Linked DNA regions of Homo sapiens: region 1 is linked to region 2. Evidence: fine-mapped expression QTL. A gene starts in region 2. The other region holds a variant in brackets. All regions are shown on one strand. Distances are from middle to middle.

Region 1 (8,744 bases), 25 kb after region 2:
TGGGCTCAAGCAAACCTCCTACCTCAGCCTCCCATGTAGCTGGAACTACAGGCACACACCACCACACCATGCCCAGCTAATTTTTTATTTTTTGTAGAGACAGGGTCTCACTGTGTCGCCCAGGCTGGTCTCGATCTCCTGGACACAAGTGATCCTCCTGCTTCGGCCTCCCAAAGTGCTGGGATTACAGGGAGGAGCCACCATGCCTGGCCGACTTTACTTATTTAAAGACATTCAGCCCTCTATCGCATGGCTGAATGTAGATGAGCCTGTTGGGCTTTGTCACTAGACGGTCTTCAGATCCTTGAATACGGGGATTGTGATTGTGTCTTGTTCACCAGTGTATGTTCTGCAGTGCCCAGCAGGCACATAGCACATGGTAATCACTCCATAAACACCCATTAATAAAATCATGTTTTTATTATCAAGTGAAAAAAAAGTGCAGAATGGGATTATGGTAGTCTATCTTTTGTGTAGTAAGGGGGAAAATAGGAATATATTATCACAATAATTTTCATTTGCATAAAGACACTCTGGAAGGACACAGGAGAAACTAATCACAATGGTTTCCCCTAAGCACAACGGTGAGACCAGGAGAGGTGGAGACAGTGTGAGAGAAAGATCTTTTTACTTTATATATTTTTATAGTTTCTTAAAAGCATGTGAATGTATTTATTTTAAAAATAAAAAAGATAGCTGAAGTGGTTTAGACATCAGGGCTATTTTTGATGCTGTCCTGGACTTGTGACATGGCAATATCCACAAAATGTCATTAGCCTATCAACTTTATGGCAGGTGGCAGGGCTGCCCCTGCATAAGGTGATAAAACTCTGCTTGATATATGGAAGGCCAGGCAGGGGGTGGGAAGAGAGGGAGGGAGAGAAACAGAAGGGAAAGGTTGGGGTGAGAGAACAGAGTGAAATATGGGGAGAAATAAAGAGAAGCGAGAGACTGGAAAAAAGATGGAGACAAGAGAGGGAAAAAGGAGAAAATCAGATTTAAGAAGATCAAAAAAAGAAGACAGAATAAAAGAGAAAGCATGTACCTGAGAAAGGCTTGGAGGGAAACTCCAAAATCAGGTCACTTCCAAAAAAACTCACACACTGGGTGAGACAAGCCTAACCCACCAGAGGCCTGCTAGACTGTGAGATGAGGATGAGGCTCCACATTGAGGGAGCAGAGTGTCATCAAACACATGGTTCCAGCTGCCCTGCCGGATGTGGGGCAGGCCCTCCCCAGTACTGCCTCTACAGCATGAAGCAACAGAGAGAGGCAGGGTCCTCTGGGCTTCCATGGATCTTCTCAGGACCCAATCCCAATTTATCTTCGGGAGTTGATTTCCCAAGGGCAGGTACCCTTGGCAGCCTGAATCATGTGACCTCCGGGGATAGTGTAGTCCATTAGAAACACATCTGTCCTGCTACTGGTAGTGGGGGTGCTTGCCAGAAGACCACCCCTGGCTTCGAGTTCCTTCCTTAACAACTCTGGGGAGGTGTGGCTGGTACAGTCTTGGCTCCAGAATCTCCCTTCCTGGGTGGAGAGGGTTTTGAAAAGGAAGAGAGAGGGCTAGGGCAGGAGTTAAAGTTGGTGATGGGAGAAATCTGGCCTTAAGGATGGATGTTCAGTTCCAGAAAAGATGAGGCTCTCTGCTCCCCACTATGGACAGTTTCCATTCAATTGGCAGAACATCTGCAAAAGAGGAATTCAACAGCATCTTGTTAAAAGGGGTTTAAAAAAAAAGTTGCATTCTGACTTTTGCCCAGGATGCCCTCCCTAAATAAAACCAGCTAGAAAGTTCCCTTCTGTTACCCACCACCTGGGTGCCTGGCTTCTATCCCCTTCTTTTATATATTTCTCTCAGTGAAAGTCCTGTCCTCAGGCTACACACTGGACTTTGGGTGGAGGGGACATTTATTTCCTAGGGATTTTGAAGCCTTTCCACTCCTCCCTTTGGAGAGGACAGAGAGAGTTGCCTGGCTGCTAATGGGAGAATGGGGACCCCAAAATCCTCTGAAAGCAAGTAAGATCGTGTGTTCCTCCATTTAAATCTTATGCAGTTTATACCTCCTTGAGCTTTTAAGAATAACAGACACGAGTCTTCTACGACCGTACACTTCTCAGCTTCGTCTTTAGAGGCTTTGGTTCTTCTCTATGTGTGTCCTTACTGAGGTTGACTCCGCAGATTGTCTCCACTCTAGACCACTAGGATGCTGATCAGATTCATGTTTTATCTGATCTCTCCCTTGACCTCCAAGCTCTTATTTCCTGCAGTCCTGAAACTTCCTTTCACCCTTCCTGTCCTGCCCTTGGTCTCCTCGGAGGTCTGCTGGGGAGGTGCTCTCCTCTGAGGAAGGAAGGCTTCTCAATGGTTAAGATAACTTTTCTTTAAAGATATACCCGATCTGCCTTTGCGGACCCAGCTGTCAAGGGCTGCACCGTGCCTGGATATGAGCTGTATTTGCCGAGATGTAGCATGAAGGTGAGTTGGGGAGGATGTGGGGGCAGCGTGAGGAGGAAGCAGGAATGGAGGAGCAGGAGACTCTAGATGAACACCCTAGATTTGATTTCTGTCTCTGCCCCAGGCCTCTGACCAGTTGGATCCAACATCTGGATGTAAGCTGATAAAAAGAAATGAAAAAAGGAGCTCATAATCCAGACATTTGGTTTGCATGCCAGTGAACATCTGGACACCGGAAAATATCTGGTTTGGGAACTATGATTTTCAGTTTCCTTCAAATTTTTGGAAACCCGTAGTCATATTGGATTGCCTGAAGAACTTAAACACGTCTTTAACTCTTGAACATCTTTAGAGGATCATTATCAAGCTAATTCATACTTTTCAAGGCTTCACAGCAGGTAAAGGAAAAATCCACAGTCCAAGAGATTCAGATCACTGAGTGTGGCTGGGGAAGACATGATCTCTATTTACTTCAGAGGACAAAGAGAATTCTCTAGAGAGCATTCTTCCCCTTCTCTCCCCACCCCCACCACTCAGGATATGTATTGGAACAACCTCTCCTTTGTCCATCTGGCAAATGAAATCCCAGACAGACTGGTGCTTGGATACCATGGCGGCGATGAAGCCTGAGCTCGTTGACTTTAATAAGCTCTGCTTTATTGGCAATCCAGTAACCACCTAAGGAGCTGGTCCAGGAAATGAGGCAGGATCCAGGCCACTCTGGGCTCCGCGCAGCCTTCTTTTTCCAGGAAACTGCTTGTCTTGGCTTTGGAGTGGCTTTCCCAGCCCATCTCTGACCTGACGCAGAACATAATCATTAGCTCCCTTGCCCAAATCTTCGGTTCTGCTGTAACAGCATGATTCTTCTCCTCCTCTGGGAGGAGGCCATGGTGGGATAGAGATGACCTTGTCCAAATGGTCTTGGGAAGTTTGGGCCCAGCCGGAAGATGCTAAGAAGGTCTGACTCTGATGGGCAACATCTTCCGAAATGCCAGTTGAATGGCTCTGTAGAGGCC[C/T]GCAGCTTCTTAGTTCTCTCTCCTACTAATTCCTCTCAGAATCCTCAGAACAACCGATGACATTGTTATAATTTTTCTCATTTTGCAGGCAAAGAGACTGGGGCTCAGGGAAGTCACACACAATCGGCCTAAAGTCACGTAGCTATTTAGCACTAGAATTGGGGTCTGAACCCAGACTGCCTGATTTGAAGTCTTCTGCTCTCCATTCTACCCTGAGGTGCACAATATTCACTATAGAGACAGGACCAGCCTTCATGAGGCAGCAGTCAATACCTAAATGCGAGAGGAAAAAGAGAAGTGAGTTGGGGTAGTCATGGGAGGCTTTCATGAGGAGGTGCTACTTGGGCCTCAAAGGAAAAGCAGGATTTGGCTAGAGGAAGGGGAAGGCATTTCAGCCAGTGAATGGCATGAGCAAAAAATGTAGGCAAAAAGGGGCATGGCCAGTTCACAGCCCAACAGGAGAGTGGGTTGCCTAACTGGTATTCTCTTTTTTTATGCTTAATTGGTATTATTGCCTAATTGATATTCTTCTTTAATACTTGAGTTTTATTTGAAATGCTCCTTTTCTATAAAATCTTCTAAATATTTAACAAATAATTTGGAACTTTCGACAGCATTCTAAATATAAACTTTTAAATACTCCTTCTAAACAACAATATTCTTTCTAAAAATGAAAATGTGTATGAAATAGATTTTTTCCAAGCCAGAACAGATATTCCCTTGCTTGAAATGCTATTTCTTTTCAATTATTGGTATTCTGATTCCAAATAATAACCAGAAATGGGAGGAACTGAAAAATCCACAAATGGGCCCCATAGAAAAGAGTTGGCCTTTGGCTACATCTGGAGAGCTCCAACACCTGATTAAAACTATAACAGACACAGGATCTTTTCTTGCCCTGTATTTCTCCTTGATCTCTCTCACTTCAACACTAGCGGAGCCAGATGCAATACAGAAAATAAAGGGGAGCTGCCTGCAGTAGTCCCAGCTACTCATGAAGCTGAGGCAAGAGGATCGCTTGAGCCCAGGAGTTGAGTCTAGCCTGGGCAATGTAGCGAGACTCTAGCTCTAAAAATAAATAAAAAAGAAAAAGGGAGACAGGGGAGAAGAAAAGAGTAAGGAGGGGAAATAGCAAAGAAGCTAACCAAGACCCCCAAGAGCCCCTCTTTCTACCATAGATATAGATAGGCCCTGAGATAAGTCCAAGTTTGGGAGGGCAAAAGATTAGATTGGACAAGAGTTCAGAGGATTGATGTTAATACGAACAAACACACATGCACATATTTATAACTGAAAGGGATTGAAAAGGCTATGAATCTGCCTGAAATTTCATCTAGAAGAATGAAGCCACAGGCCCGATTGAAAGGGATAGTCGTGAGAAAGAATGAAATTGCTTTCTGCTTGCCCTCTTGTGAGTTTGGCTTGTTTAAAATCAGAGAGGCAGAGAATTCCACTCCAGGAATACAGAGGAGCTGTACTTCTCCCTATTCCTCCTCCTAAATACAGCTAAGAACTCTGGACATTGTCTATAAAACAGACATTAGAAGACTAGGAAAGATACAAAGATGGCAGACAGGCTATGGACCTGGGCTGAGGAAAACATGGTGGTGCATTCTCTCGATTTTATTACGGTGTCATATATCCAAGGCTTGGAGCAGCAACCTAGAAATGCCAATGGGTTCAGACGGGAGGAGAAGAATAAGAAGGAGAAAGAGGAGCCTGAAAAAAAGCCTGCTCTCACTAGACAAAGGACTAGGAAAGGGACAGCCCAGCAAGACAGAAAACTTTGAAGACAATAACAGTTCCGCGCCAATCAAACGCTACAGAAAAAAACTGGTCCCACTCACACCAGCAAAGGTTGAGGGAGAAGCTGAGACTTTCACGCTTTTGAAGGCGAAGCTGTAACAAGGCCCCCCGGCACCTCTACTGGGTGGTGTCAGAGGAGGCCATGTAGAGATCAGGGACTTTTATCCTTGCAGGCCTGTACCCATGTCCCTGGGTCCCACCCCCACCTCCTCAGTGTCAACCTGTGTCAGTGGAGACTACATCGGAAACCTACTCTTCACCTAGAAGCAACGAGATGTCCTTCTCCCTTTCCACTAGAGTAGAGACCTAGTAAAGAGGCAGGACTTTCACCATTACGTAGTAGTAACAAGCCTATCCCCACCATGATATCAGCAGAAACCATGTGGGGAGGCAGAACGCCCACCCCTGACCAGCAGTAATGAGAAACACCCACTCCTTGAAGTGTCAATGGAGGCCAAGTGGAGAAGCTGGACTTCTACCACCACTTGGCAATAAAGAAGTAACAGTCCCCCACCCTTCCTCTGTAGGAGCAGTTTCAGAGAAAACCAGCTAAGACTGAAGACTTAAATAAGATCCAGAGCCTATAAAATAATATGAGATATCTAGGTATCAACTGAAAATCACTCATGTTACCAAGAATCAGAAAAATCTCAAACTGATTTTAAAAAGACAATCAACAATACAAAGATACCAGATGTTAACATTATCTGACAAAGATTTTAAAGCAGCCATCAGAGAGATGCTTCAACAAATAATTAAGAACACATTTGAAACAAAGCAAAAAAAATAGAAAGTATTAGTAAAGAAACAGAAAATATAAAGAAGAGCTAAATGGAATGTTTAAACCTGAAAAACATAATAACCGAAGTAAAAAAACCTCAGTAAATGGACTAAACAGTAGAATGGAGGGGACAGAGGAAAGAACAAGTGAACCTGAAAATAGAATAATTAAAAATCACCCAATCTGAGAAACAGAGAGAAAACAGTTTGAAGAAAATGAAAAAAGCCACAGGGACCTGTGGAACTAGATGAAAAGATCTAAAATTCATGTCATCAGAATCCTGGAAGAAATGAGAAAGAGGGCACAGCTAAAAAAAGTACTCAAAAAGTAATGGCTGGCGGAGCGCAGTGGCTCACGCCTATAATCCCAGCACTTTGGGAGGCTGAGGTGGGTGGATCATTTGAGGTCAGGAGTTTGAGACCAGCCTAGCCAACATGGTGAAACCCCGTCTCTAATAAAAATGCAAAAATTAGCCAGGTGTGGTGGCAGGTGCCTGTAGTCCCAGTTGTTCAGGAAGCTGAGGCTGGAGAATCGCTTGAATCCAGGAGGCAGGGGTTGCAGTGAGCCGAGATCGCGCCATCGCACTCCAGTCTGGGTGGCAGAGCAAGGCACCATCTCAAAAAGAAAAAAAAAAAATAGAAAAAAGTAATGGCTTAAAACTCCCCAAATTTGGCAAAAAAGAGCCCCATTAGCCTACAGATTCAATAAGCTGAGTGAACAAGATAACACATCAAAACAGGATAAACTCAAGAAATACCAAGATATATTAAAGCCAAATTTCTAAATATTAAAGGCAGGCCGGGCATGATGGCTCATGTCTGTAATCCCAGTAATTTGGAAGGCTGAGGCAAGAGGATCATTTGAGTCCAGGAGTTCAAGACCAGTCTGGATAACAGTGAGACCCTGTTTCTATAAAATTTAAAACATTTTTTTAAAAAAAGTAAAGGCAAAGAAAACTCTTGAAAGCAGCAAGACGGAAATGAACCTTACCTGTAGAGAAAAATAATTCAAACAACAGCAAATTTTTTAAAAGAAACCATGGGGGTCAGAAGGAAATAGCCAATATTTTCAAGTGCTGAAAGAAAAAAAAAATAGTCAACCCAGAATTCTATTGCCTGTGAAATTATATTTCAGGAATAAAGGGTAAAGCACAATAAATTTCTCTAAAAAGAAAGAAAACAAACATCAGGAAGGGAGAAAGAACACAGTGAGCAAAGACATGGTTAAATATAAAACACTTTTCTTCTTCTTTTTTTTTATTATACTTTAAGTTTTGGGGTACATGTGCAGAATGTGCAGGTTTGTTACATAGGTATATACATGCCATGGTGATTTGCTGCACCCATCAACCCGTCATCTACATTAAGTATTTCTCCTAATGCTATCCCTCCCCCAGCCCCCCACCCCACAACAGACCCTGGTGTGTGATTGCCCCTCCCCATCCACGTATTCTCATTGTTCAAAAACACTTTTCTTCTTCTTCTTCCCCATCCCTTCCTTTCCCCTTCCGCCTCCTCCTCCTCCTCCCCCTTCCTCCTCCTTCTCTTCTTCCTCCTCCTCCTCCTCAATACAGGGTCTCACTCTGCCACCCAGACTAGAGGGCAGTGGCACAATCTTGGATCACTGCAACCTCCATCTCCCAGGTTCAAGCTATTCTCATGCCTCAGTCTCCTGAGTAGCTGGGATTACAGGTGCCCACCACCACACCTGGCTAATTTTTGTATTTTTAGTAGAGATGGGGTTTCACCATGTTAGGCAGGATGGTCTCGATCTCCTGACCTCGTGATCTGCCCGCCTCGGCCTCCCAAAGTGCTGGGATTACAGGTGTGAGCCACCATGCCCAGCCTCCTTTTCTTCTTTTTCTTTTCTTTTTTTTAGACTGAGTCTTGTTCTATCACCCAGGCTGGACTGCAGTGGCAGGATCTTGGCTCACTGCAACCTCTACCTCCCAAGTTCAAACGATCCTCGTGCCCCAGTCTCCTGAGTAGCTGGGACTATAGGCGCCCACCACCGTGCCTGGCTAATTTTTTTGTATTTTTAGTAGAGACGGGATTTTGCCATGTTGGCCAGGCTAGTCTTCAACTCCTGATCTCAAGTGGTCTGCCTGCCTTGGCCTCCCAAAGTGCAGGGATTACAGGCATGAGCCACCTCATCTGGCCTCCTTTTCTTCTTGAGTTTTCTTTCTTTCTTTTCTTTCTTTTTCTTTTCTTTTCTTCTTTTTTTTTTTTTTGAGACAGAGTCTCACTCTCTAGCCAGGCTGGAGTGCAGTGGTGTGATCTTGGCTCACTGCAACTCTGCCTCCCGGGTTCAAGTTATTCTCCTGCCTCAGCCTCCCAGGTAGCTGGGACCACAGGCGTGCGCCACCATGCCCAGCTGTTTTTGTATTTTAGTAGAGACGGGGTTTCACCATGTTGGCCAGGATGGTCTCGATCTCCTGACCTCGTGATCCACCCACCCTGGCCTCCCAAAGTGCTGGGACTACAGGCATGAGACACTGCACCTGGCCCCTTCTTGAGTTTTCTAAATTATTTTTGATAGTTGAAGCAAAAATTACAATACAGTCTGTTGTGGTTCTAAAAATATGCAGAGGAAATATTTAAGGCAATCATATTATAAATGGAGGCTGGCAAAGGGATGTAAAGAGAAGTAATATTTCTTTTTTTTTCTTTTTGAGGCAGGGTCT
Region 2 (8,000 bases):
GAATGCTATACATCCAAAAGCACAGTTTCAGGAAGTGTTGCAATGAATTAAAAAAATTTTTGTTTTTAATTATTTTCCTTAACATTTGAGATATAGCTGATATGCAATAAAGTGCAGAAATACCAAGTGTATAGCTTGATGAATTTTCACAGTGAACAAAGTCTTGTAACTAGCAGACAGATTGAGATGGAGACTATTTCCAGCACCCCAGAAGGCTTCTTTATGTCCTTTTCCAGTCAGGAGACCTCTCCCCATGCCAATCTCTATTCTGACCTCTATCACTATACCATAATTTTGCTTGTCATTGAACTGCATAGAAATGTAGAAACTGAATCATACAAAAGTTACTCTTTTGTGTCTGGCTTCTTTCATCCACATATCTGTGATTCATCAATGTTGTGTGTAGTAGTGGTTTATTCTTTTTCAAATGGCTGTGTAGTACTTCATTGTATAATTATACTGTGCTTTCTTTATTCATGCTACTGCTGATAGACTTTTGGGTTGTTTCTAGTTTTGAGCTACTATATTTTGATTTCATTATGAGATGGGGTATCCCTATTATCCCTATTACCCCTGTTGCCCAGGCTGGTTTTTTTTTTTTTTTTTTTTTTTTTTTTTTTTTTTGAGATGGAGTCTTGCTCTGTCACCCAGGCTGGAGTGCAGTGGCACGATCTCGGCTCACTGCAAACTCTGCCTTCCAAATTCAAGCGATTCTCCTGCCTCAGCCTCCTGAGTAGCTGGGGTTATAGGTGTCCACCACCACAATTGGCTTTTTTTTTTTTTTTTTTTGTAGTTTTAGTATAGAGAGAGTTTCACCATGTTAGCCAGTCTGGTCTCGAACTCCTGACCTCAAGTGATCCACCTGCCTTGGCCTCCCAAAGTGCTGGGATTACAGACCTGAGCCACTGTGCCTGGCCCCAGGCTAGTCTTGAACACCGGGGCTCAAGCGATCTTCCCACCTCCACTAGGATTAGTAGCTAGGATTACAGGCGTGCGCTGCCATGGGTGGCTTTGAGCAACTACAGATAAAGCTGCTGTGGACCTACTAGTACATGACTTTTGATGGATATAAAGGTTCATTTCTGTTGGGTTTATGCCCAGGAATGGAATTGCTGGGTCATAGGGCATGACTATGACTATTATTATTTTTTAAATTTAGGGATCTATTAATGCCTCTACTGTACAAGGATGAATAAATGTGCATGTGTGGGTGTTTGCCTAGTGGAAACTAAAACTGTGGACATGCCCTACATATCTATCATCTACCAAGTAAAAATTGGTGAAAAATTCTTAGTCTTTAGGTAAAAGTCTGGATATTTCTGCAGTTCATAATTAGACAAGCAAGAAACTCTGGTGAGAAACTGGAAAGCACTGAAGAGACATCTCCTCCCTTTTCTTCCATATTGTTTTCAAATGCGATCTAGTGAAGATTTCGTGCTTGGTGTCTTCAATTATAGCAATGCTCATTAGGAGTGATGTACACTACTGCCTGTGGGCCCTTTCCCACAAAGTGGCTCAAGTTCAAGGTCAGGTTGGTGAGAGGCTATGATTGAGTCTGCCCAGAGTTTAGGGTAAGCCATTCCATATAATTGTCAAGACCCTCGTGTAGAATGGAAACATTCCTGTCTTCTCCAGAAAAACTGGGAGTTCTAGAAAAAGCAGACAGAAGGATTTGATTTGGGAGGGGTAGTAAAGGAAGCGGAAAACCTCTAAAGACAGATTTGTGAAACAAACCGTTTGATTCTTCTGAATTGCACTGCACATTAGGCCCCAACAGAGGGGCCTCAAGCAATTCTGCCAGTGGCTGGGGTTTCCCCTTCCATTCCCTTTTCCTTGTAAGGAAGTTTAAAGCTTGCAGGAGGCAGATAGGGGTCTTGGGCTTTCTGGGTACTCAGCTTGTGTGGGAGTATGCCAGTATCAGGGACAGTTTCCTGGGCCCCTTGCAGACCATAGGGAGAGGACTGCAGGGCAGGGAGACTGGCATCTCCACACAGGCGTCTGTATTCTTGGGGTCCAGAACTCCCGCAGCTGGTTTCTGGCAGTCAGCCAGGCTTGGCTTCCTCAGACTTCTTTAGATCCCAAAAAAGGGGGAAAGTGCCTCTCTTCTTTCTCTTTTCTGACTGACACTTCAGGATTTTACAAGATTTTGTCCCATCCGCTCTGTCAGCTTCTCTCTTTCCCTCTTTGTGTTGCTGTCCCTGAGTCTCATCTCTCCCTCTCCCCGTCCCTCCCTCAAGTCCTGTGGGTCTCCGTCCCTCCGTATGTCTTTACTTAAAGGGAAATCCAGACCCTTCCACAGGCCACTCTAGAGGCTCCATTTCCCCTTCAGGTCCGGAAGTGGAGTGTCCTGGGTTCCATCCAGATCGCATGTCTTCTACGTCTACGTTCGTGTCTCCCGCCTCTTCCCTCAGCCTCACCCGAATCAGGGCCTCCAGAGCATTCTGGGCAGTAGCGAGTCCCTGGGTAAGGGGCGTCCAGGGCACCTCCCTGGGGCCCGGAGCAGCTCATTCCAGGACATCTGGGACAGGAAGGGTACCGGGAATGAACTGGGGTGCTAGTACCCAGGACCCAAAGCCAGGGGCTGCCAGAAATACCTATTAACCCCCATTTCCCAGCCTCCTCTTACACAGGCGCATTCCCGGGTTCTCCTCTGAGGCCGGGAGCGGCCTCCCAGCCCCACCCCCGACTCCCCTTCCCCCCCAGGAGATGGACACTTTATAGAGAGAGCTTTTTATTCTCTCGTTAAACCTGTCAAAGCGCAGGAGACAGAAAGCTAGGGAGGGAGAGGAGGAGAAGGAGGTGGGGCCCGGCTCCTCGTCCCCTCTTCCTCCGCCCACCACGCCTCCCCTCCCCCCGGACGTGTAAATGAGACTCTGCAAACTGGAAAGCAGCGAAAGGACACCTCCTTCCTTTTCTCTCTTGTTGTTTTTAAGTGGAATGAGAGAGAGAGGAGTGGAGAGGGAAAAGAAGAGAGAGAGGGAGAAGAGAGAGAGGAGAGAAAGAGCGAGAGAGCGAGAGAGAGAGACAGAGACAGAGAGAGAGAGAGAGAGAGAGAGAGAGAGAAAGAGAGAGAGAGAGAGAGAGAATAAGCTGGGGTAAAGTATTTTCGCAGTTTCTGCCTTTAGGATTTTATTAGCTTCTCTCCCCCAGGCCGCAGCCAATCAGCGCGCGTGCCCGGGCCCCTGCGTCTCTTGCGTCAAGACGGCCGTGCTGAGCGAATGCAGGCGACTTGCGAGCTGGGAGCGATTTAAAACGCTTTGGATTCCCCCGGCCTGGGTGGGGAGAGCGAGCTGGGTGCCCCCTAGATTCCCCGCCCCCGCACCTCATGAGCCGACCCTCGGCTCCATGGAGCCCGGCAATTATGCCACCTTGGATGGAGCCAAGGATATCGAAGGCTTGCTGGGAGCGGGAGGGGGGCGGAATCTGGTCGCCCACTCCCCTCTGACCAGCCACCCAGCGGCGCCTACGCTGATGCCTGCTGTCAACTATGCCCCCTTGGATCTGCCAGGCTCGGCGGAGCCGCCAAAGCAATGCCACCCATGCCCTGGGGTGCCCCAGGGGACGTCCCCAGCTCCCGTGCCTTATGGTTACTTTGGAGGCGGGTACTACTCCTGCCGAGTGTCCCGGAGCTCGCTGAAACCCTGTGCCCAGGCAGCCACCCTGGCCGCGTACCCCGCGGAGACTCCCACGGCCGGGGAAGAGTACCCCAGCCGCCCCACTGAGTTTGCCTTCTATCCGGGATATCCGGGAACCTACCAGCCTATGGCCAGTTACCTGGACGTGTCTGTGGTGCAGACTCTGGGTGCTCCTGGAGAACCGCGACATGACTCCCTGTTGCCTGTGGACAGTTACCAGTCTTGGGCTCTCGCTGGTGGCTGGAACAGCCAGATGTGTTGCCAGGGAGAACAGAACCCACCAGGTCCCTTTTGGAAGGCAGCATTTGCAGGTACCTCTATTACCCTGGGTCCCCTTGTCTCTGAGCCTGGGGTTGTGGGTCCCAATGGCATTTCCCTGGGAGGAGGAGGAGGGAGACTTGGAGCTGGTGAGGATGAGCTTGGTGCTCCTCCCTTGGTTATTAGGACTCTGAAGGAGGTCTGAGTAGCTGGAGGGCCTGGATGGAGGTCAGTGTGAGGGGCCTGAGCTGGGTGCTATCTGAAGCCTGAAGGCCACCTCACTTCTCCAGGAGGCCCTGGGACCAGCCTTTCAACATGTCTGAGAGGTTTAGATCTCTTTGCTGTTGAGTGGGGATCAGGGTGTCCCTACCCAGCACAATTCCAAACTAATTCTACACAAAAGCTAAATAACTCTCAATTCGGTGCGTGGGGAGTGGGTGTGGGAGATGGGTAAAAAGGTATTGGATGTACTGTAGAGAATACAACCTCTCACTTTCTATTAGATGAGTTTTCCAATTTCCAAAGAAAAATTTAGGTTTCCTGCAGCCGTGACATATGTGTGTGCACTGGGATGGGTTAATGTGTGTGTGTGTGTGTGTATGCGCATGTATTGGGAGTGGGGGCAGAAACGTGTTTCCAGAATTTGCCTGTAGAATCTAAAAGAGTGGCCAAGAGTCTGGAAATGCATGAAGACTGGACGTATGTGATGGTGGGCAAAGGCCTGACTGTGTGTGGTGTGTGGGTATGTTTGCAGATTCGCGGGTGTGAGAGCAGTGATGGGTGAGGGTGGCCTTCAGGAGCCAAGGCTGAGCGGTGGTGAGAGAACAAGCCGGAAGCCAGGGTGCTGTCCTGGTATGCTTTGGAGGAACAGGATTGCACGTGCGCCTGTAGGGTGACCTGTGTGCACCTGTGAGATGACTTAGCTTGGGGCTTGCAAGGCCTGGGTCTGCATGGGTGGGTATCTGACCATGCCTTTTCCTCCCTCCCTTTCACGCCGCGCAGACTCCAGCGGGCAGCACCCTCCTGACGCCTGCGCCTTTCGTCGCGGCCGCAAGAAACGCATTCCGTACAGCAAGGGGCAGTTGCGGGAGCTGGAGCGGGAGTATGCGGCTAACAAGTTCATCACCAAGGACAAGAGGCGCAAGATCTCGGCAGCCACCAGCCTCTCGGAGCGCCAGATTACCATCTGGTTTCAGAACCGCCGGGTCAAAGAGAAGAAGGTTCTCGCCAAGGTGAAGAACAGCGCTACCCCTTAAGAGATCTCCTTGCCTGGGTGGGAGGAGCGAAAGTGGGGGTGTCCTGGGGAGACCAGGAACCTGCCAAGCCCAGGCTGGGGCCAAGGACTCTGCTGAGAGGCCCCTAGAGACAACACCCTTCCCAGGCCACTGGCTGCTGGACTGTTCCTCAGGAGCGGCCTGGGTACCCAGTATGTGCAGGGAGACGGAACCCCATGTGACAGCCCACTCCACCAGGGTTCCCAAAGAACCTGGCCCAGTCATAATCATTCATCCTGACAGTGGCAATAATCACGATAACCAGTACTAGCTGCCATGATCGTTAGCCTCATATTTTCTATCTAGAGCTCTGTAGAGCACTTTAGAAACCGCTTTCATGAATTGAGCTAATTATGAATAAATTTGGAAGGCGATCCCTTTGCAGGGAAGCTTTCTCTCAGACCCCCTTCCATTACACCTCTCACCCTGGTAACAGCAGGAAGACTGAGGAGAGGGGAACGGGCAGATTCGTTGTGTGGCTGTGATGTCCGTTTAGCATTTTTCTCAGCTGACAGCTGGGTAGGTGGACAATTGTAGAGGCTGTCTCTTCCTCCCTCCTTGTCCACCCCATAGGGTGTACCCACTGGTCTTGGAAGCACCCATCCTTAATACGATGATTTTTCTGTCGTGTGAAAATGAAGCCAGCAGGCTGCCCCTAGTCAGTCCTTCCTTCCAGAGAAAAAGAGATTTGAGAAAGTGCCTGGGTAATTCACCATTAATTTCCTCCCCCAAACTCTCTGAGTCTTCCCTTAATATTTCTGGTGGTTCTGACCAAAGCAGGTCATGGTTTGTTGAGCATTTGGGATCCCAGTGAAGTAGATGTTTGTAGCCTTGCATACTTAGCCCTTCCCAGGCACAAACGGAGTGGCAGAGTGGTGCCAACCCTGTTTTCCCAGTCCACGTAGACAGATTCACAGTGCGGAATTCTGGAAGCTGGAGACAGACGGGCTCTTTGCAGAGCCGGGACTCTGAGAGGGACATGAGGGCCTCTGCCTCTGTGTTCATTCTCTGATGTCCTGTACCTGGGCTCAGTGCCCGGTGGGACTCATCTCCTGGCCGCGCAGCAAAGCCAGCGGGTTCGTGCTGGTCCTTCCTGCACCTTAGGCTGGGGGTGGGGGGCCTGCCGGCGCATTCTCCACGATTGAGCGCACAGGCCTGAAGTCTGGACAACCCGCAGAACCGAAGCTCCGAGCAGCGGGTCGGTGGCGAGTAGTGGGGTCGGTGGCGAGCAGTTGGTGGTGGGCCGCGGCCGCCACTACCTCGAGGACATTTCCCTCCCGGAGCCAGCTCTCCTAGAAACCCCGCGGCGGCCGCCGCAGCCAAGTGTTTATGGCCCGCGGTCGGGTGGGATCCTAGCCCTGTCTCCTCTCCTGGGAAGGAGTGAGGGTGGGACGTGACTTAGACACCTACAAATCTATTTACCAAAGAGGAGCCCGGGACTGAGGGAAAAGGCCAAAGAGTGTGAGTGCATGCGGACTGGGGGTTCAGGGGAAGAGGACGAGGAGGAGGAAGATGAGGTCGATTTCCTGATTTAAAAAATCGTCCAAGCCCCGTGGTCCAGCTTAAGGTCCTCGGTTACATGCGCCGCTCAGAGCAGGTCACTTTCTGCCTTCCACGTCCTCCTTCAAGGAAGCCCCATGTGGGTAGCTTTCAATATCGCAGGTTCTTACTCCTCTGCCTCTATAAGCTCAAACCCACCAACGATCGGGCAAGTAAACCCCCTCCCTCGCCGACTTCGGAACTGGCGAGAGTTCAGCGCAGATGGGCCTGTGGGGAGGGGGCAAGATAGATGAGGGGGAGCGGCATGGTGCGGGGTGACCCCTTGGAGAGAGGAAAAAGGCCACAAGAGGGGCTGCCACCGCCACTAACGGAGATGGCCCTGGTAGAGACCTTTGGGGGTCTGGAACCTCTGGACTCCCCATGCTCTAACTCCCACACTCTGCTATCAGAAACTTAAACTTGAGGATTTTCTCTGTTTTTCACTCGCAATAAATTCAGAGCAAACAAAAGATGTGGAATCTTAGAGATTTATTCCACTGGTGTGTTAGGACCATTAAAAAGACGTGGGCGCCCCCTTCCGACAGAGGCTCACCACTCCAGGAGAACCTGCGGGCAGGCTTTCATCGTCCGCGGAGCTACAGGCTTCCAGCGGCCTGGGGCCTCGTGGGTACTGAGCTGCGTGTGGGGGTCCAGGACCCGATGTCGCCTGCCATTCGGCCAGGGCATCGGCAGATGTATTGGTCCAGCCCCCGAGAGACCCAGGAAGAAGGCAAGGAGGTTCGGTACGAGCCATCTCGAATGGAAGAAGAAGGCGGTCGGTCTGCGGGAGCCAGGCCGCAGAGCCATCCGCCTTCTGTCCATGTCTTCTTTATCTTCCTCGCCATAATAATTAGTGGTGTGGACCCCCCCACACACACTTTTTTTCGGATTTACTTGTATGGAACCTGTGCAAAAAATATTTAATTTCGTTTTGTATTAAACGCTTTCATTGGGAATCCCTTCCCAATTTTAGTCTCCCACCTATCCCTGGACGACCACATTGAAATCTCTCACTTATTTGTGTTTAAATCACAACAAAATCTACAAACCTATATTCGCCTGCAGATATTTATTTTTACATAAGGGCTATGTTAAGCTACAGGAGGAAATGTTTTGCTTACCATTCGGACAAACGTGTGAACACAATGTCACAATAGGTGAATCCAGACAATGAGCTCACAGACGAATAAACGCAGAGGCACACACATATACTCCGGAAAATAAGCAGGGCGCCTTTTCACTAACAAGGCGCAATTGTACCCTGAGCTGCCCTCCAGACCGTTCCCCTCCCTCA

Alleles and levels. Positions count from the first base shown, and alleles are read on the strand shown. Sizes are in standard deviations (SD) of each study's normalised expression.
In carriers of allele T in region 1, the expression in sun-exposed skin of the gene that starts at base 3,189 in region 2 tends to be lower than with C alone (small effect, 0.28 SD a copy in GTEx).

Evidence for each region. PIP is the estimated chance that this variant, and not a neighbour inherited with it, causes the effect.
Region 1: its variant is fine-mapped to the expression of HOXB13 in sun-exposed skin (GTEx, PIP 0.98).

What each region holds. Positions count from the first base shown.
Region 1 is chr17:48,699,004-48,707,747 of GRCh38, reverse strand. It overlaps LINC02086 (long intergenic non-protein coding RNA 2086), which reads right to left. Exons shown (of 8, transcript NR_189645.1): 6 at 7,052-7,136; 7 at 2,398-3,747; 8 at 402-1,689. Among named protein-coding and RNA genes, the nearest start is that of PRAC1, 19 kb to the left of the region's middle. The variant C/T (reference allele first, on the strand shown) is at 3,475.
Region 2 is chr17:48,723,939-48,731,938 of GRCh38, reverse strand. It overlaps HOXB13 (homeobox B13), which reads left to right and starts at 3,189. Exons shown (of 2, transcript NM_006361.6): 1 at 3,189-3,946; 2 at 4,896-7,176. The coding sequence starts at 3,346. The coding sequence ends at 5,149. It overlaps PRAC2 (PRAC2 small nuclear protein), which reads right to left. Exons shown (of 2, transcript NM_001282275.2): 2 at 7,181-7,611. The coding sequence starts at 7,528. The coding sequence ends at 7,256. MIR3185 (microRNA 3185) reads left to right here and starts at 7,464; the gene lies at 7,464-7,531.